Linked DNA regions of Homo sapiens: region 1 is linked to region 2. Evidence: fine-mapped expression QTL. A gene starts in region 2. The other region holds a variant in brackets. All regions are shown on one strand. Distances are between the middles of the regions. Region 1 has its middle 93 kb from the start of PNPT1. Region 2 holds the start of EFEMP1 (EGF containing fibulin extracellular matrix protein 1).

What was found.
Region 1: its variant is fine-mapped to the expression of EFEMP1 in cerebellum (GTEx, PIP above 0.99).

What each region holds. Positions count from the first base shown.
Region 1 is chr2:55,781,319-55,792,212 of GRCh38, forward strand. No RefSeq gene overlaps it. Among named protein-coding and RNA genes, the nearest start is that of PNPT1, 93 kb to the left of the region's middle. The variant GAAAC/G (reference allele first, on the strand shown) is at 5,039.
Region 2 is chr2:55,918,893-55,929,786 of GRCh38, forward strand. It overlaps EFEMP1 (EGF containing fibulin extracellular matrix protein 1), which reads right to left and starts at 4,890. Exons shown (of 12, transcript NM_001039348.3): 1 at 4,819-4,890; 2 at 4,007-4,047; 3 at 3,468-3,555. The coding sequence starts at 3,548. RefSeq lists an enhancer at 4,450-4,949.

The sequences.
Region 1 (10,894 bases), 140 kb before region 2:
AAAATTTGTTTTTAGGAGAAAGGAAAGACATTACAAGGAAAAGGAAGGCCATTACAGGGAATATAATAACATAAATATAATAAATTATATAAGGGCCCATTGCAGTAGAGGCAAGGGTGGGAAATGTGCACACTGCAAGGAGCGACTCACATGTGATACTGAAAATCATTGGTGATGCCCTCAGCCTCAGCCTGAAAAGGTATGGACACAAATGAACAGATTAGCAACCCAGCTTACACTGATGTGGTTTCTTGAACCTCAGCAATAATCTTTCCTCTTGGAAGTGACCCACTGGACAATGCAGAAGGTGGCCAGGGAATGTATTTGCAATCAGGCTCTGCCCTGGACTCATTTTACCCTCTTCATTTCTGTTCCGCCACTGAAGCTGCTGAGTACAGATGCTGTCATTTTACACTAGGGGTCCTCTTTTTCCATCATCTCTTCTAGACATTCAGAGGATTAATAGTGAGTCAGATAAAATCTTTTGAGGAACCTGCTAGTTTATAAATGAAAAAGAATTAAAACTATCTCTAATAGTTTGCATTCCTACAGCACTTTATAATTATCAAGTATTTTTGAAATTACAAATTTAATGTACAATACATATAACATAAAAGTTACCACTTTAACCATTTTTAAGCATATAGTTCAGTAGTATGAAGTACATTCACATTGTTGGCAACCATCACCACCATCCATCTCTAGAACTCTTATTGTCTTACCAAATTGTAACTTTGTACCCATTAAGCAAATCTACCAAGTGTTTTCTTACACATTATTTCATGTGCTCTTCTTGATATCCCTGAAAGTGGGAGGGAAGATATTATTAGCTCAGTAGAGCACAGTGGTTAGTGGGGCAGGCGCTGGAATAAGACTAGCTGGTTTAAACCTTGATCATCAAGTATTGTTAACAATAGAACCTATCTTGCCAGGTTGTTGTGAGGATTACATGAGATCATTCATAAGGTGTTTAGAACATAGCTATAATCATCCCCATTTCGCAGATAAGAAAAGTAAGACTAAGAGACCTTGAACATTTGCCAAAACTCACAGAATTAAGAAATGCTAGCCGGGTGTGGTGGCTCATGCCTGTAATCCCAGCACTTTGGGAGGCTGAGGTGGGCAGATTACGAGGTCAGAAGTTGGAGACCAGCCTGGCCAACATAGTGAAACCCTGTCTCTACTAAAAATACAAAAATTAGCTGGGCCTGGGGGCCTGCGCCTGTAGTCCCAGCTACTCAGGAGGCTAAGGCAGGAGAATCACTTGAACATGGGAGGCAGAGGTTGTGCTGAGCCGAGATACCACTGCACTCCAGCCTGGGCAACAGAGCAAGACACTGTCTCAAAAAAAAAAAAAAAAAAAAGCAAGTGGGAACCTGAATTGTGGTTGATTCAGTGTTCTTTCCTTTATACCCGTTAATAATTAATTAAGTCCCTGCTCAATACTGCCCACAGAAACACTTTTGTGTTCCTCAAAAACATGTAAAAATCTAGATTTTAGGCTAGCAAAAGGAGGCGATTTCACTTAAATATGTTTTGTGTTTTTGACTTCAGAGTCAAGGCCTTGCAAATTTCCTTATCAACCCTGACATCCCTTGGGAGGTGCTGACAGCACTGACCTCAAGGCATGTTGTGAACCCAGGAGAGCATGAGCTGGGGATGGGGAGATTACAGGAAGGTAGATGAAGTCAAGCAGGAGTGACAGAAATTTGGTCCAGCTCCAAGCTGGTATTGGAGGGCCAAGGGGAGCCTCCTTCAGGAGGATTGGCATAGGAAATAATTTTAAATTGCAGAATAGAAATGCTGATGGAACAAGGCAAAGCAGGCTTATGCCAGGATGAGGAATAGGGTAGGATCCAGGCCCAAGGCATAAGTTTGCAGAGATGTGTGTGTGTGTGTGTATGTGTGTATGTATGTATGTATGTATGTATGTGTGTGTACCTGATCAGGTACCTGGGATATAAGGCAGGAGTCTCTCCTCACCCTCCTGCCCCTCTCTTTATACTAGTGTCTGGGGATTTGAGAAAAACAGAGGAACTTCTCCACCATTACCAGAGGCTGGGTAGAAGGGGGCAGAAAGGTGATCTGATCGCTCTCTAGTTCAGAGGTTGGTGAGGATGAGAAAGAAAGGCTGCTTTTGATAGCCTTTTGAAATGCCCAAGCTTTGGCTCTGAGGCATTAGAGTTCTACCAATTATTTCCAAATTCCTAGGGTTTAGGTATTTAAAGCTCTTGGTCAGGGATTACAGGAATGAAGTGGGGTGGTGTTTATATAGCTGAATGCTCCCTCCAGAGCTGGGATGAGGCTAGGACAGGAGAGGAGATGACACAGGTAAGACTTGCAAGGTGAACTACATATTTCCCTACCCATGTCTCATTGTTTTCCCTCAGAAATCATCTTCATAAACTACTTCTTTCTTTTTCACTTTCTTTCTTTCTTTTTTTTTTGAGAGGGTGTCTAGCTCTGTCACCCAGGCTGGAGTACAGTGGCGTGATCTCCACTCACTGCAACCTCCGCCTCCCAGGTTCAAGCAATTCTCTCTGCCTCAGCCTCTCAAGTAGCTGGGATTACAGGTGCCTGCCATCATGCCTGGCTAGTTTTTGTATTTTTAGTAAAGATGGTGTTTCTCCATGTTGGCCAGGCTTGTCTTGAACTTCTGACCTCAGGTGATCCTCTTGCCTCGGCCTGCCAAAGTTCTGGGATTACAGGCGTGAGCCACAGGGCCCGGCCTACCTCCTTTTTTCTGTAGTATTAACCTGTTTTTCTCTGTGGCACATTTATTTTTGCATATAAGCATGTTCAATATTCTCAAATAATATGAAACAAACAAAGTCAACAAAATAACCCCTCATCCTTGGCTCCCCATCTTCTTTAAAGTTGCTGTTCATTATTCTTTTCTCCTGTATGGTCACACTTCTTGAAAGAGTTGTCTCCATTTTCCAGTGCCCTTCCTCACTTCTGAGTCTCACCTCAGTCCACTATAACCTAGCCTCTCACCTTCCCCTCCATTGAAACTGCTACTGCAAATTGCAAATGTTCTCCACAATCCCAAATTTCATGGCCGTTTTTCTCTTTTTTTGATGATAATGACCGGGCTTCTGTTTTTCACTACTCTATCCTCATTACCCACTAGCACATGCCTGGCACATAGTTGGTGCTCAATAAATATTTTTTGAATTGAATTGATCTCTCTGTGGTGTGTGACACTTTACCACTGAAGGGGATTAGACTATGCCAACCCAAAATATGCCAGTTTGGCACAGGGATCATTTTCAGCTGAAGAAAATGGAGAATCAACAGATGCAAAATGAAGTCCTTCTAGAGTTCCCATTATCTGACTAAAAGCAGAAACTTCTGAGAACTGAGGATTGCCATAAATCCCCTTTCTTGGGCAAATTTTATGACTGTGAGGAAGACGGCAAGTTGGCACCAAGATGGACCTGCACAAACAAAGCTTGATAAGATAGCCCTTATTTTCCATTAGTTTTCTCTATATATTTACCTCCCCAGTTTGCAGCCCTTAGAAGCCTAAAAACTTTCTTCCTTTGTCTTGTGCCATCTCTGCAATTTATCTTTCTTGTTGTTGTTAAAAACGGTATATAAACTCTCGTCTGAGAGAGTTTGCTTCTTCGTTCTTCACTTTTTTGGTAGGAAGATCCCTGTGTCATATAAAAGCTACGCATCAAATACAATTCATATGCTTTTGCTCTCCTGTTTGTCTGTCTTTCACCAGTTTAATTTGTAAATAAGTTGGGCATGGTGGCACGTAGAGATGGGGTTTCACCACATTGGCCAGGCTGATCTCGAACTCCTGACCTCAAGTGATCTACCTGCCTCACCCTCCCAAAGTGCTGGGATTACAGGCATGAGCCACTGTGTCGGGCCTCTCAGGCTTCTTTTTAATCTCTTCCCTTGGCTTGTTCCCTAAAGGTCAGTAGACTACAGGGTCTGTTTTCTGACCTCTGCTTTTCTCAGTCTGTAGACTTTCTCTGGATAATCGGATCAAAAGCCATGGCTTCAACTATCTGCTCTGAGATCATTATCTTCCAAATCTATATCTGCAGCTCAGACCCTATAGTCCAATTACGTGATAGAAATCTCCAGTTCGATGCCTGCCATGTACCTCAAACTGAACATATTCAGAACTGAACTCATCATCTGCCCCCCTCAACCTGCTCCCCTTGTAAGTGATGGCTCAGTGAATAACACCCACCATGCACCCAGTTGTCCAAATCAGAAACCTGCAGCTGTGTTTCCTTCTCCCTCATCTCTCACATCCAGTAAGTCATGGAATCCTGACAATTGTGCCTCCTTAATGGCTCTCAGACCCATCTCTTTTTCTCTAACACCACTGCCATTTCCCAAGTCCAGGCCACCATTGTCTCTCCTCTCCATTATTGCACTGGCCTCCTCACTGCTCTCCTTGGTATCTGGCCTTCCTCAGCCTCATTGCCTCTTCTCCATCCTTCTTGGCATGAATAACTCCTAGTCATTCCTCAAGTGCCACTCAATGTCACTTCAATTGGGAAGCTTCGCTGACTAAGCCCTCCCCACCCATGAACCCCAGGATATATTGAGTGTGTCTGCTATATGTGTTCCAAGCATTTAACTTGTCTTATTATAATTGCTTGTTTAATTGCTTAACTGTACCACCAACCCACTAGATTGTAAATACTCTGTTTTTCCCTGCACCTATTTCTAGCACCTTGCGCAGGGCCTAGATCATATAGTATGTAGTAGCACGCAGCACATGGTAGATACTCAAAAAATATTTGTTGAACGAGTCAAAGAAAATACTCGCTAAACTGAAGAACTACCATTTTGTAGTTCATCTAAAAATAAACAAGGATCAGTGGTTTAGCAAATAAATCTATGGTGTATGTGTGTGTAAACCTCCCACTCTCAGTTCATGTGGTTGATGAACCTCAACTATGTAAGTGAAACCTTATTTTCCAAATAAAAATATTCAATGTGAATGGCAATGTCATAATTTTTGGTGCTCATGGCAACAAACAGCTCAACAAATAAAATAAGCAAA[GAAAC/G]AAAGGTAACAAAACCCCATTTATTCATCCAGATCTTTTCTGTTTAACTCTGCAGTCTTAACAGTTCAATAATTCAACTGCAAATTTGTTAAGATTCATTGCTTTCCAAGTCCATCACATGCTCAGGCTTATTTGCTTGTCTCTTTCTGCTGGGAAACTATTTGTCTGTGGAGTAGCCCAGAAAACAACTTTTTTTTCCATGTTAATTACTCAAAGATTAAGAAAGGTAAAATAAGAGTTATGTAACAGAGGGTTTGTTTTGCTCCTAGGATTACACAGTAATGAACATGCATATTTATCCTTGGGAATGCTTACAATGATATTATCTGAATGATGTATTCTCTTCTTGTATCCCTATGAATAAGGTACTAATTTCCATCTTCCCGTCCGCATTAAATAGTCTGAGCCCTCTTGCACCTGTAATTAAAATTTTGAATTATCTGCTATGTATAGAGCACTGTGAGGATTGCCAGAGCAGTTAGATGTGTCCTATATCCTTGATCCCTTTGGAAGAATGTGACCCAAACCCTCATGAAACACATAGGAGAGGGTATGAGAAGTAATTGTAACTAAAGCCTGTCAGGCCAGAGTTCCTTCCTACTAATCACGAACCGGTGTTTTTGGACTTAATATAATCACTTGGGTTAAACTTGAATACTTAAGTCTAAAGGTGAATGTTGTAAAAAATGAAGAGTTGGGGCAGTTGCTTTTTTTCTACAGTTGTAGTCTCTAGAACTATGGTTGTATAAATATTTTTATAGTATTACAGCATGCACATAAATCTACTTTAAGGAAATAACTTCATTCCTTCCTCCCTTCTTTCTTTCATTTTATAAAAAAATTAATATTTTCCTTTTTTTTAAACATCAAAGTAACGAGTACAAGTTTAAAAAGTCAAATAATGCTAAGAGGCTTACAGCAAAAACCAATATTCTCTTAATCCCTCCACCTCAAATTGCCTCGTCCTTCTGAATACTCCTACCTCCCTCAGGTAAACATTTTCAAAATCTTCACCACTTCTAATATCAAAACACTGTGCGAATACTGCTATTGCCTTTTTAAAGCATTATTTATTTTGGCCTTTTTATAGCTCTTTTCTTGAATCCATTCTTTGTGAAATAGTACCATCATAAATTTTGGTTGAATCTATACTCATCAATTTATTATAACCATTTTGTAGTTAAATATGTACATAGTTTGTATGTGGGAATATATATAATATATGGTTTGTACTGAGTATATATAATTATATATACTATATAGTATGTATATAATTTGTGCTATATGTATTATCTATATAGTTTATACTATATATTTATACTACTTAGTCATAATATGTGCATACAGTTTGTACCATATATATATTATAATATAAACTATGTATAGTTTATACTGTATATACTATGTAAAGTTTAAACAAGCTAAAGCATAGTATATATGTATATGTAGTATATAATTTATGCTATAATTCAATTTCTTATACAATTTCTGTTTTCTTGGAGTTAATAATTTTTTTATTTTTTCACTTGCCTGGTTTTTATATTTTTGGAAACTACAAACTTCTTTGTAAAGTAGTTCTCATTACAGCTTTCTACATGGTAAAATTTGTAAGATAATCTGCACATTCCATTTAGGAGGAGTTTATTCTTACCTTTTGTACTTGTGTTTCGATTAGGATTGGTTGCTTTTTGAACCTGCTACACATGTTTATTAGGTCTTCGCTTTGATACCATCTTGAGAATTCTCTTTATTTTATTTTATTTTATTATTATTATACTTTAAGTTTTAGGGTACATGTGCACAATGTGCAGGTTAGTTACATATGTATACATGTGCCATGCTGGTGTGCTGTACCCACTAACTCGTCATTTAGCATTACATATATCTCCTAATGCTATCCCTCCCCCTTCCCCCACCCCACAACAGGCCCCAGAGTGTGATGTTCCCCTTCCTGTGTCCATGTGTTCTCATTGTTCGATTCCCACCGATGAGTGAGAACATGCGGTGTTTGGTTTTTTGTCCTTGCGATAGTTTGCTGAGAATGATGGTTTCCAGCTTCATCCATGTCCCTACAAAGGACATGAACTCATCCTTTTTTATGGCTGCATAGTATTCCACGGTGTGTATGTGCCACATTTTCTTAATCCAGTCTATCATTGTTAGACATTTGGGTTGGTTCCAAGTCTCTGCTATTGTGAATAGTGCCGCAATAAACATAGGTGTGCATGTGTCTTTATAGCAGCATGATTTATCATCCTTTGGGTATATACCCAGTAATGGGATGGCTGGATCAAATGGTATTTCTAGTTCTAGATCCCTGAGGAATCGCCACACTGTCTTCCACAATGGTTGAACAAGTTTACAGTCCCACCAACAGTGTAAAAGTGTTCCTATTTCTCCACATCCTCTCCAGCACCTGTTGTTTCCTGACTTTTTAATGATCGCCATTCTAACTGGTGTGAGATGGTATCTCATTGTGGTTTTGATTTGCATATCTCTGATGGCCAGTGATGATGAGCATTTTTTCATGTGTTTTTTGGCTGCATAAATGTCTTCTTTTGAGAAGTGTCTGTTCATATCCTTCGCCCACTTTTTGATGGGGTTGTTTTTTTCTTGTCAATTTGTTTGAGTTCATTGTAGATTCTGGATATTAGCCCTTTGTCAGATGAGTAGGTTGCGAAAATTTTCTCCCATTCTGTAGGTTGCCTGTTCACTCTGATGGTAGTTTCTTTTGCTGTGCAGAAGCTCTTTAGTTTAATTAGATCCCATTTGTCAATTTTGGCTTTTGTTGCCATTGCTTTTAGTGTTTTAGACATGAAGTCCTTGCCCATGGCTATGTCCTGAACCTTATTGCCTAGGTTTTCTCCTAGGGTTTTTATGGTTTTAGGTCTAACATGTAAGTCTTTAATCCATCTTGAATTGATTTTTGTATAAGGTGTAAGGAAGGGATCCAGTTTCAGCTTTCTATATATGGCTAGCCAGTTTTCCCAGCACCATTTATTAAATAGGGAATCCTTTCCCCATTGCTTGTTTTTGTCAGGTTTGTGAAAGATTAGATAGTTGTAGATATGTGGCATTATTTCTGATGGCTCTGTTCTGTTATATTGTTCTATGTCTCTGTTTTGGTACCAGTACCATGCTGTTTGGTTACTGTAGCCTTGTAGTATAGTTTGAAGTCAGGTAGCATGATGCCTCCAGCTTTGTTCCTTTGGCTTAGGATTGACTTGGCAATGTGTGCCCTATTTTGGTTCCATATGAACTTTAAAGCAGTTTTTTCCAATTCTGTGAAGAAAGTCATTGGTAGCTTGATGGGGATGGCATTGAATCTATAAATTACCTTGGGCAGTATGGCCATTTTCACAATATTGATTCTTCCTACCCATGAGCACGGAATGTTCTTCCATTTGTTTGTATCCTCTTTTATTTCATTGAGCAGTGGTTTGTAGTTCTCCTTGAAGAGGTCCTTCACATCCCTTGCAAGTTGGATTCCTAGGTATTTTATTCTCTTTGAAGCAATTGTGAATGGGAGTTCACTCATGATTTGGCTCTCTGTTTGTCTGTTATTGGTGTATAAGAATGCTTGTGATTTTTGTACATTGATTTTGTATCCTGAGACTTTGCTGAAGTTGCTTATCAGGTTAAGGAGATTTTGGGCTGAGACAATGGGGTTTTCTAGATATACAATCATGTCATCTGCAAACAGGGACAATTTGACTTCCTCTTTTCCTAACTGAATACCTTTTATTTCCTTCTCCTGCCTGATTGCCCTGGCCAGAACTTCCAACACTATGTTGAATAGGAGTGGTGAGAGAGGGCATCCCTGTCTTGTGCCAGTTTTCAAAGGGAATGCTTCCAGTTTTTGCCCATTCAGTATGATATTGGCTGTGGGTTTGTCATAGATAGCTCTTATTATTTTGAGATACATCCCATCAATACCTAATTTATTGAGAGTTTTTAGCATGAAGGGTTGTTGAATTTTGTCAAAGGCCTTTTCTGCATCTATTGAGATAATCATATGGTTTTTGTTGTTGGTTCTGTTTAAATGCTGGATTACATTTATTGATTTGCATATGTTGAACCAGCCTTGCATCCCAGGGATGAAGCCTACTTGATCAGGGTGGATAAGCTTTTTGATGTGCTGCTGGATTCGGTTTGCCAGTATTTTATTGAGGATTTTTGCATCAATGTTCATCAAGGATATTGGTCTAAAATTCTCTTTTTTGGTTGTGTCTCTGCCCGGCTTTGGTATCAGGAGGATGCTGGCCTCATAAAATGAGTTATGGAGGATTCCCTCTTTTTCTATTGATTGGAATAGTTTCAGAAGGCATGGTCCCAATTTCTCCTTGTACCTCTGGTAGAATTCGGCTGTGAATCCATCTGGTCCTGGACTCTTTTTGGTTGGTAAGCTATTGATTATTGCCACAATTTCAGAGCCTGTTATTGGTCTATTCAGAGATCCAACTTCTTCCTGGTTTAGTCTTGGGAGGGTGTATGTATCGAGGAATTTATCCATTTCTTCTGGATTTTCTGGTTTATTTGCGTAGAGGTGTTTATAGTATTCTCTGATGGTAGTTTGTATTTCTGTGGGATCGGTGGTGATATCCCCTTTGTCATTTTTTATTGCATCTATTTGATTTTTCTCTCTTTTCTTCTTTATTAGTCTTGCTAGTGGTCTATCAATTTTGTTGATCCTTTCAAAAAACCAGCTCCTGGATTCATTAATTTTTCGAAGAGTTTTTTGTGTCTCTATTTCCTTCAGTTCTGCTCTGATTTTAGTTATTTCTTGCCTTCTGCTAGCTTTTGAATGTGTTTGCTCTTGCTTCTCTAGTTCTTTTAATTGTGATGTTAGGGTGTCAATTTTGGATCTTTCCTGCTTTCTCTTGTGGGCATTTAGTGCTATAAATTTCCCTCTACACACTGCTTTGAATGCGTCCCAGAGATTCTGGTATGTTGTGTCTTTGTTCTCGTTGGTTTCAAAGAACATCTTTATTTCTGCCTTCATTTCGTTATGTACCCAGTAGTCATTCAGGAGCAGGTTGTTCAGTTTCCATGCAGTTGCGCGGTTTTGGGTGAGTTTCTTAATCCTGAGTTCTAGTTTGATTGCACTGTGGTCTGAGAGACAGTTTGTTATAATTTCTGTTCTTTTACATTTGCTGAGGAGTACTTTACTTCCAACTATGTGGTCAATTTTGGAATAGGTGTGGTGTGGTGCTGAAAAAAATGTATATTCTGTTGTTTTGGGGTGGAGAGTTCTGTAGATGTCTATTAGGTCTGCTTCATGCAGAGCTGAGTTCAATTCCTGGGTATCCTTGTTAACTTTCTGTCTCATTGATCTGTCTAATGTTGACAGTGGGGTATTAAAGTCTCCCATTATTATTGTGTGGGAGTCTAAGTCTCTTTGTAGGTCACTCAGGACTTGCTTTATGAAACTGGGTTCTCCTGTATTGGGTGCATATATATTTAGGATAGTTAGCTCTTCTTATTGAATTGATCCCTTTACCATTATGTGATGGCCTTCTTTGTCTCTTTTGATCTTTCTTGGTTTAAAGTCTGTTTTATCAGAGACTAGGATTGCAACCCCTGCCTTTTTTTGTTTTCCATTTGCTTGGTAGATCTTCCTCCATCCTTTTATTTTGAGCCTATGTGTGTCTCTGCACATGAGATGGGTTTCCTGAATACAGCACACTGATGGGTCTTGACTCATTATCCAATTTGCCAGTCTGTGTCTTTTAATTGGAGCATTTAGTCCATTTACATTTAAGGTTAATATTGTTATGTGTGAATTTGATCCTGTCATTATGATGTTAGCTGCTTATTTTGCTCATTAGTTGATGCAGTTTCTTCCTAGCCTC
Region 2 (10,894 bases):
ATGATGCAGACTTTGTCCCTGTCCTCAAGCAGCTCAAAGACCAGAAGAGGAGACAGATAGGTAGACAAGTTGCAGCAAGATGGCAGGTGCCTTCTACAAGTGTATGCAGGAAGGAGTAATGGACTCTGCCCGGGGGCATGGGTGAGCATGGCAGGGCAGAAGGGAAGACTTGACAGAGGAGGTGACAGTAAATCAGGCTTTACAGGATGAGCAGGATTTTTCCAGGTGAATGTGGGAATTCTAGGAAGAGAGGCTATTGTGACAAAGGCATAAAATTTTTGAAAAGGGAAGGAGCTGCAAGGAGTTCTGGGTAGGTGGAGGATGAGGTTACAGAGGTAGGCAGGGCCAAAACAAGAAAGCCTTTCTTTAGGAATGGAAGCCTGAATTCTACCCTGAAGGTCAGTGAATCTCAAGCTTTATTGTGTCTAAGGATCATTCAGGGTTCTTGTTAAAATGAAGATTCCTGGGCCCACCCAAAGGATTTGATTCTGTAGGTCTGGGTAGGGGGCCTGGAATCTAAATTCTTAGCAAGTATCCCAGGCGATTCCCATACAGGTTGTCTAGGAACTACTTCTTGAGAAATGTTGCTACAGGCGATAAGAGGCCTCTGAAGAATTTTTAAGCTCAGGAAACAATCTGATCAGACGCTCATTTGAGAAAGTCACTGTAAGGAAGAAGCCCAAGGAAGGATTGAGCAAAAGTGGAGTAAACAAACAAATAAACTTAAATTCTTTTAATATAACTGAGAGCTGCTTATGTACACAATGGATGCTTGACAAGGAAATAGCTGAATGGAAGCCCAGAGATCCATTTAGATATTTTACTGATGTCTGAAACTTACTGGAGCGAGAACTAAATTCACTTTGTCTCTCAGACTAATTTTTTTCTTGTTTCCCAAACAGTGTTAAAGGTACCACTACCTTTTTCGAAACCCAGGATTCCAACTTTAACATCAGTGCTGAATGCTCCACTTATTTTCCTTCCATCTCTGCTGACTTTGTGTCCATTTCTACCATGTCTACTAAGAAAGGCTTTTGCTGGCCCATGAGTAGGCAAGGCCCCGCATCTCTACATGCTGCATACAGACCCCATGATCTTTCTTGTGCTCTTGGTTATGTTGCTCCTCTCTCTGAGACCTCACAGTGACCTGCAGATCTCTCATCATCACCATCTCTGGGTTCTTCCCACTACCCAGTTCCAGCTGATCTGACCTTATCACCACCTGGATTGGTCTCAGGTGCTTTCAGCTCTAGCTTTTGATTATGCCACTCTCTGACTCAGGTGCCTCTTCAGCCTTTCTAGATCAATCCAACCAAGGTCATCACTTCCTTCAAGAACCAGCACAGAGTTCTGTCTCCTCTAATATGCTGGCACCAACATTAATCACCTCCTTGCTTTTCTATTTCCTTGGCAATTTGTATAATCTGTATAATAGTATCATTTGTCCTTGCTTAGGAACTTTGTAGTTTTCAACACTGTCTTCCCAGGCTAAATTCTCCAAGAGGAGACTGAATTTTCTTAGTAAACAAACAAATTCTTTTAATAGTGATGAGAATTGCTTATGCAGATAGTTGTTGAGTAAACAGCTGAATGGACACCATCTTTAATATGGAAGAGGACTATGAGGCTATTATGTGGATACGAGCCCATTCTTCTGAAAAGTATCTTTCAAGCCAGGCAAAAATGGCAGTTCACTTGAATAATTTGTATGGTAAATAGAGAAGACTTGCAATTTGTTTTAGGTATTTACTTCTAGACATTTAATGTCAGTGTACTATTAAGTAAGCCTAGACTGAGTTTAGCTTCACCACTTGGCTATGTAGCCCTAAGCAAGTTAGACACTCTCTCTGATCTTCAGTTCTACCATTAGTGGAAGGAAGATGATGCCACTTACCTTACACATTGCCGCAAGGATCAAAGGAGATCGTGTCTCCACAGCGGGATACTCAGAAATAGTTATTATCTTGTCCTTTAACCATGAATTATTAGGCATACAAAATTTAAAGGAGAATAGGCCCAATCTTAGCACAAAAGGGTAACATATCTGGAAAATTTGTTACAATAATAATGAACCCTAGTTAGTGGTCTTAAAACTATCATGTTTAAGCCACAGGGAACCTTCTCTGGTAAAAATGAGGAAGATTTAGGTGATTAGCAAAGGGAAGGGCATAGAAGATAAGCAACTGGAAAAGAAGTAAAATCTTTTATGAGATGATTATAAAAGTGGGTAGTGAATTTAATTTTAGCTCCCTGAGAAGGCAGTAAGTTTAGTCTGAATAACAAAACATTTTCATTTTAAGATAAACAGCACATGCCTTCATTTTTCTTGCTTAATTTATCTTCAGCAGAGGAAGCAACTGCATTTAACATGAAGTTAACAAAATATTTGTATTAAGCTATTTTATTTATAGTGGATCTGAACAACAGAAAGGAACATTTGCCAGATGAATACTAACATTCTAGGGATAATGTGGTACCAAAAAGTGAGATAATGTTTATTATCAGTAATTGACATTAGTTCATTTTTAAGAGTTTTCTTTTCAAAAATTTTTCACATTCTTTCGAGTAGGATTACTTAATTTTAAACTGGGAGCAGTAGAAAAATGTGCTTTTCATATTCCAATCCAGGACAAATGTCATTTGCCTAACACTGATTAAAGACAAGAAAACACAGAACAGAGGTGCAAACAAACTCACCAGAAGTGAAGTCAGTACTGTCCTTCTCTGTTCTCACCACAACTATTTGTAGCAGTGGGAGGGGTCAGGTGATCTTTTTAATATTTTATTAAACATTGGTTACACCTATGCAACTAACTAATCAAATATTACTTGGAAATATCAGAGACGCTAATTAGAAAATGCAAAACGGAGTTGCACACATTACGTTTTAAAACCACTTTAGCCAATATGCATCCTGGTAACACATAAACTGTTGTCTGCCTTTATTTATTAGAATTATCAAGTTATACAAAAAGAATGAATATATAGCCTTTATAAATTCAATAAAGGCCACTTACTTGAGAATGCATGTCATGTACACAAAGAAGGCCATGTGTCTTTATGGTGTTTAACGTTCTTACTTGACTTGAGTCTTATTCTGCACGTATTGGTTTTATCTGCATGTGGTAGGAGTCCAGGTTTTCCAGTTCCTTACACCCATTAATTTGTTGAATGTTTTGGAAACATGTAACTTTCTTTGGTTTTAGTTTTTGAACGGATCCCATTTTTAGCCCTGCACAAATGATTACATGTTGGTTCCTATCTTAGGTGGTGAGCCCAATGAACTTTTGAAAGGATCAAGGGGGCAATTTACAACGAATCTTAGATATGAAGCATGAATGAAGTGTTGTTTAATTTATCACCCTCAGCAGAGTATAGCCCAAATACACTGGCAGGGGTGTGTAAAGTCTTTTTTTGTCACAGAATCCCGCTGAACCGTACTTATTTCAAATTCCATCACCCCTTACCGTGTACGTGATGGTTTCTTCGGTGTCCTGTGACTTGACCAGCGCCAGAGTCAGCATAGTTAGGAAAAGGGCTTTCAACATTGTGAATCTCAAAGAAAATACAGGACAAACTAATGTTTAGTATCTGCTGCGGGGAAAGTAACAAAACTTTAGCAGTGAGCACAAGCGAGGAAAGGAGGGTGGGAGAGGCTGAGGCTCCACCATACTCAACTTCCAATCTGCTTTCTCATCTCCCCTCCCCCTCCTGAACCTTCTCGGTAGCCAACGAACGAGGCAGCAAAGACGTAAAAACTGCTGTAGAATTGCATTTCACGTTACTCCATCCTGCTACGCTGTTTACATACAAAAGACATTCAGCGTGCATTTTATACTGCACCTACAAAGCAGGCTGCAGAAAGAGGGGGTCGAAAGGAAAAAACAGTAATCCATTTCAAAGGGGACGGTGCATTTCCTGCCCCCCAGTCCCACACCCCGGGGGATGGAGGTGGGGCTGCAAAACTCTGTTCTCTAGAACGTTAAGGCTTTCCCAGTATACTCACCTTGAGCTAGCAGAGTTCCTTGCACAGCACAGCAAAAATACCTGTGAGCCAATATGAATTGCCTTGGCCTCAAGCTTTTTATTTTTTAAACAAAATAACAAAACAAAACTCGGAGAGCAATCTTCCAGTTCTAGTAGAATACTAGACCTTCTCACATGTCTCAGAGCTTCTCACATCCCCCAGCACAAACTCTCAAAGTGGCATTTCCACGCCTTTCTCTGCGCACAGCTTTGTTTAAAAGTCCCAGGTTGTGTGGAGGGGCAGCCCAAAGCGACTGATTCTCTTTTGTCTTATCAGTCTGGGTCCCCGACACGCTACCTTCGGTTTCAGGCTGCCTAGGACCGGAACCAGGGATCGCACCGCAGCCCAAGGTACCAGTTTCGGGCGGGCGGCCTGGCCCGGCAGGGAGATGAGGTCCCCTTTCTTAACAGCAAGCTAACGCGGCGGTCCCCTGGAGCTGCTCAGCGTCCCAGCTTCTAACCAGCTCCTATGGAATCCAGGTGCGGCTTAAATCTCGCACACTGGTCCCCTAAACTTTCAAAACCACGTTTATGGGCAAAGCCCTGCCGGCTGGTTGTCGGCGCGCACACACATGCCCATCCCAACAGATGTCACCCGAGTACTCGCACTTGCTGACAGATCGCATTCCGAGGCTGCACACCTCCACCTCCCTCTCTGCCCGAGACACCCTGCACAGTCCAGGGCAGTTCTCGGGTACTCAACACCCCTCAGCTCACCCCACCTCACTCTCCCGCGCGCGGCCCAGTGAGTACTGGGCTCGCTCGGGGCGACCCCCCGTTGGGGGCTCCTACCTGTGCGGCCGCGCTGCGCTCCGGGCCCGGGCAGCGAGGGGAGTGCGCAGGGGAGGGCAGCCCCGTGGGTCTGATCTGGCGAAGTCCGGCAGCGGCCGCGGCGGCAGGAGGAGGAGGAGAAAGGGAGGGAAAGGGGGAGGGCGAAGGGGGGCGGAGGAGAGAGCTGAGGGAGGCGCGAGCGCTGAGCCCAGCGTTGCGAGCCCGGCGGTAGAGCGCGCAGCGCAGCGAGGTCCGCGCCCCCTGCTCCAGGGGCCCTCTTTGCCGCCCCCGCTTGCCCTCCCTTGCCAGCTCCTCGTTTCCCAGACTCGCGGGGACCCCACGCCAGAGAGGACACGTTGACATGTGATGTCCTGGATGCGCTTCAGCCTTGGGGATGCTCCCACTCTCTAGTGCGTTTTCTTCTTCTCTGAGGAGGGGAACACAGCATCTCCCTCAGAGACCAGAGGGTTCTAGAAACTGCTGTTACTTTTTTTCCCAATAAGTGAATGCTAGGAGAGTAAATTAACCCCCATTCATAGAACTGTTTCCTTTACCTTTTCTTTCGGATTTTTTTTTTTTTTTGAGGAGGTGTCTGCTTCCACAAATGGAGAAAAATGAGAATTCATCCATTCAACAAATATTTGCCACCTACTGTGTGCTTAGTGTTGGGAATAGGCCAAATAGAACTTGCACTAACAAAATTGTGAGGTGGGGTTTGTTTTATGGTCTCTCAAACCTCCCTTTATGATAACAAGTGTTGGCAAGAATGGAGAAAAGGGAATGCTTGTATGCTGTTGGTGGAATGTAAATTAGTACAAACATGATGGAAAATTGTATGGAGGTTTCTCAAAAAACTGAAAGTAGAATTATCATATGATCCAGCAATCTCATTTCTGGGTATTTACTGGGAAGATTTGAAATCAGTGTGTTGAAGAGACGTCTGTACTTTCATGTTTATTGCAGCACTATTCACAATTGCCAAGATATGGAATCAACCTAAGTGTCCATCAAGGGATAAATGGATAAAGAAAATGTGGCATATATGTGTGTGTGTATACAAATATAATATATATTATATATATAAACACATATATATATAAAATATGTACACACATATATTTTAGATATATATGCGTTTTTAAGGCTAAATAGTATTCCATTGTGTGTGTGTGTGTGCGCGCGTGCATGTGTATATGAGCCCATTCTTCTGAAAAGTATCTTTCAAGCCAGGCAAAAATGGCAGTTCACTTGAATAATTTGTATGGTAAATAGAGAAGACTTACAGTTTGTTTTAGATATTTACTCCTAGACATTTAATGTTAGTGTACTATCAAGTAAGCCTAGACTGAGTTTAGCTTCACCACTTGGCTATGTAGCCCTAAGCAAGTTAGACACTCTCTTTGATCTTCAGTTCTACCATTAATAGAAGGAAGATGATGCCACTTACCTTACACATTGCTGCAAGGATCAAAGGAGATCGTGTCTCCACAGCGGGATACTCAAAAATAGTTATTATCTTGTCCTTTAACCATGAATTATTAGGCATACAAAATTTAAAAGAGAATAGTATTCCATTTTATGTGTCTGTGTGTATGTGTGGAATACTATTTAGCCTTAAAAAAGAAATTCTGTCATTTGTGACACCATGGATGGAAGTGGAAAACATTATGCACAGTGAAATAAGCCAAATGTAGAAACACAAATACCACATGTTCTCAAGTATCTGAAAGTAACTTAAAACAATTGAACTCATAGAAGCAGAGAGTAGAATGGTGGTTACCAGAGGCTAGGGTTGCAGGGAATGGAGAGATAACAGTCAAAGAGTGTAAGCCTCAATTAGATAGGATGAATAAGGGTTGGGTGCAGTGGCTCATGCCTGTAATCCCAGCACTTTGGGCAGCCAAGGTGGGCAGATCACCTGAGGTCAGGAGTTCAAGACCAGCCTGGCCAACATGGAGAAACCCCATCTCTACTAAAAATACAAAAATTAGACACGTGCCTGTAATCCCAGCTACTCGGGAGGCTGAGGCAGGATGATCGCTTGAACCCCGGAAGGCAGAGGTTGCAGTGAGCTGAGATCATCCCTCTGAGTGACAGAGTGAGACTCCATCTAAAAAAAAAAGAGAGGAAAAGTTTGATTTTTTTAAAGTTCAATTGCACGGTGTCGTGAATAAAGCTGATAATTGAGTACTGTATATTTCATTATCACTAAGAGAGTAAATTTCAAATGTTCTCATCACAAAAAATGTCAAATATTTGAGGTGATGGATATATTAATTAGCTTGGTTTAATTATTACACATTGTATTAAAAAATCATAACACCTTGTACCCTATTAATATATACAACTATAATTTGTCAATATATAATAAAAAGTCTCCCTTTTTATGGGTTTCTTTTTTCATCTATAGCTTCTCTTTTCTTCACTTATTGACTTAGTGAAATCTCCAATACTGCTCATTCAAAGTTGGGCATTTCACTTTCACCTTTCATAGTGGAATTTCAGGAATCTGGAGAGAAAAATCTTTTTTTCTGTTTTTATCAAATCATACCACACAAATTGCAGTTACCTCTGAAGGCTCCAACTCTAAAGTCATACTAATAGCTTGCTTCCAAGGCAGCTGTCTTCTAAGAAGCAAATGGCCAAATACAATTTCATGAATGAGAAAACTTACAAACTGAAGGGGTTAAAACTTTGACTCTGTCCTTGAGCAGGAGGCAGAGCTCAGGAGGAGAGGAAAAGCTCCTTTCCTTTCCTGCTGACTCAAGGTGGGAGGGTGGTAGCGACTGCAGGAGAGGGAGGTTATCAGGTGGAAGCTGCTCTCTTTATCTCTGGGGTATCCAGTGTGGGTTACCTAGACATTGCCAGTTTGGTAGCAAGCCACACAGTATTGGACAAGATCAGAGGGGAGGTGTACAACCCTCCCTAAACCTTACTTGAGTATACAGAGTTTTGGTAATTGTATCAAATATTTTTACTATCAAAATTCTAGTGTTTTCCCCCAAGTCATTAATGACCTCCAGATTTTTTTTAAATGGATCTTTACTTTTTGTACAGTAAGAAGATCTGTGCACATGGTTTTTCCTGTTTCTCTTAAACTCTTTCTACCTGTTCCCAGCCACTTTTCCAGAAAAATGGGGTGAAAACTCTCAAATTTATATCTCCAGCCTGGAACTGTTCCTATATATCCAGCTGCCAACTTGCTATCTTCATTTGGACATCTAATGGATGTTTCAAACTGAACACAACTGCTGTTATCATCCCCCAACCTACTCCACCCACCTTCACCATCTCAGTTAAAGCAGTTTCATCTTTCTATTTGCTCAGATTCAGGACCATGGAGTCATCCTTGATTTCTCTTTTTCTGAGATATCCTGCATTCTATCCTTCAGGAAATTCTGTTGGCTTCACCTTCATGATATATCCAGAATGGAACCACTTCTCATCACCTCTTTTGCAACCACTCTGGTCTAAGCCACCACCATTTTCCAACTGTATTATTGCAACATCCTCCTAATTGGTCTCCTTGTTTACAACCTTGTTCTCCTGCAGCCTTTTTGCAGTGGGAGTTCATATGAATGAAATCATAGAGTAAATACTCTTTCGGGTCTGACTTCCTTCACTCAGCATGTTGCTTGAGATGCATCCTTGTTATTAGGTGTATGAGAAACACATTCCTTTTTATTGCTGAGTAGTATTCCATTGTATGTATATACCCTGATTTGTTTGTTTACATCTTAATAGATACTTGGATTGTTTATGAATAAATCTGTTACGGACATTCACTTCTAAGTCTTTGCTGGGATATGTTTTCTTTTAGATAAACGCTTAGGAGTGAAATTGCTGTCATATGGTAGGGGTATGTTTAACAGTATAAGAAAGTGTCAAACTGTTTTATAAAGTGAGTGTGTTATTTTATGTTCTTACCAGCAATATGTGAGATTCAATTTGCCTGAAATCCTTGCCAACTTCTGGTATTGTCAGTAATTTACAATGTTAGCCATTCTGGTGGGTGTGTAAGTGGTATTTCACTGTGGTTTTATTTTACATTTCTCTGATGTCCAGTGATGTTGAATTTTGCTTTTCGTATGCTTATTGTCCATCAATATATTTTATTTCAAATTTGTGTTCATTTCTTTATTTTTTGGTCTTATTAGTTGTAAGAGTTTTTAAAAATAGTCTTCCTGCAAGTCCTCTTCAGATTTACATTTTTCGAACATTCTTTCTAGTCTTTGTCTTGTCTTTCCAATTTGTTAATGCTGTCTCTTGAGAGCAAACATTTTAAATTTTGATAATTTTTTTTTTTTTTTTTTGAAATGGAGTCTCCCTCTGTCACCCAGGCTGGAGTGCAGTGGCACTATCTTGGCTCAGTGCAACCTCCGCCTCCTGGGCTCAAGCAATTCTTCTGCCTCAGCCTCCTGAGTAGCTGGGAATACAGGCGCACACCACCACACCTGGCTAATTTTTGTATTTTTAGTGGAGACAGGATTTCACCATGTTGGGCAGGATGGTCTCGATCTCCTGACCTTGTGATCCACCTGCCTCGGCATCCCAAAGTGCTGGGATTACAGGCGGGAGCCACTGCACCCTGCTGGATGATTTATTTAATGGAGTCCAACTTTATGGATTCAAACTGGATGCATGGATTTAGCAGAATGCAAGTGGAAATTGCAGTAAATTCACCTTCCTAAAATTGCTCTGAGCTCAGAGGAATCTGAGATTTTAAAGATTTGGGCTGGGCACGGTGGTTCACACTTGTAATCCCAGCATTTTGGGAGGCTGAGGCAGGTGATTCACTTAAGGCCAGGAGTTCAAAACCAGCCTGGTCAACACAGCAAAACCCCTTCTCTACTAAAAATACAAAAATTAGCTGGGCATGGTGGTGCGCGCCTGTAATTCCAGCTACTCAGGAGGTTGCAGTGAGCCAAGATCACGCCACTGCACTCCAGCCTGGGTGACGGAGCAAGACTGTTTCAAAAAAAAAAAAGGAAGATTTGAAGATGTATGTGGTGACAAACTCATAATTTTAGAAGAGATTCACAGATGTTGATGATCACACACTGAGCACTATGATCTATGTCTCTGTATCCTTTGGAATGTGTGTCTTAATCAAACATGTACTATCAGTGTGGCTGAGTCTTAAGAGTGCTTAATCAAAGTGTAGAGTAACTGTGTTCAACGGGGACCCACAGTGGGCATCCCTGGCATGCTAGAGACCAAGATATGAATCACAGAATTAGCCCACAGTTTCTGGCCATGTATCCAAACCAGGCAACATTTGGGTCCACTTGATTTGTGAAAGTATATTCTCCTAGGAAACTGCTGAAGGAGAAGCCAAGGCTGGAACCAGAATTGATGGAAAAAACCCTCTCCTTCTTACAGAAAGAATTCATTTAAAAACACTAGTATTCTTACTGAATTGATAAAAATGGATCATTCACTACTGATAGCCCTATAATGGACTCTTGCAAGAATAATGTTGATTAAATTATTTATTTTCTTGGACTGCTTTCTTATTGATGCATAAAAATTCAGTATTTTTGAATAGCAGAATTTACATTATCCATGAAAATATTCCCATGATGAATACACATTTGGATTTCTGATATGCTTTATATTACTGAAACAAGTCTTTGAAAGAGATGGTTTTTAATTTTTTTTCTAGGGCTAAAATTCTTTGTTTCTATGTTGTCTTTTTGTCAATGATTTGGAGTTTGCATCAGGCCAAGAGAAGACATGAACTTAGGCAAGTCTTCAACAGATGCTAAGTCTTTTCTTTAAAAAATCCACATTACACATAAGCAATTTTAAATTTGTACATAGAAGATAATGTGTAGTTATTAAATTGATTGCTAAAATATGCCCCAAACATTCACTCATGTGACTGGTGGCCTGCGCATTAGAAGAGGACTCATTGAAATATATGGAGGTTGGATTGCAGCTTTGGCCTCAAAGAATATTGGCAAATTTGCATTTACGCAACATTAATTTGCCTCAAGTATGTCACTGGTGAGTTCTTTGTTTTAGTGAGTGCCAGATGTATTCTTCTTCAGAATATACTTGGTGAAACTCTCTTTCTGAATGCCAAACGGACATG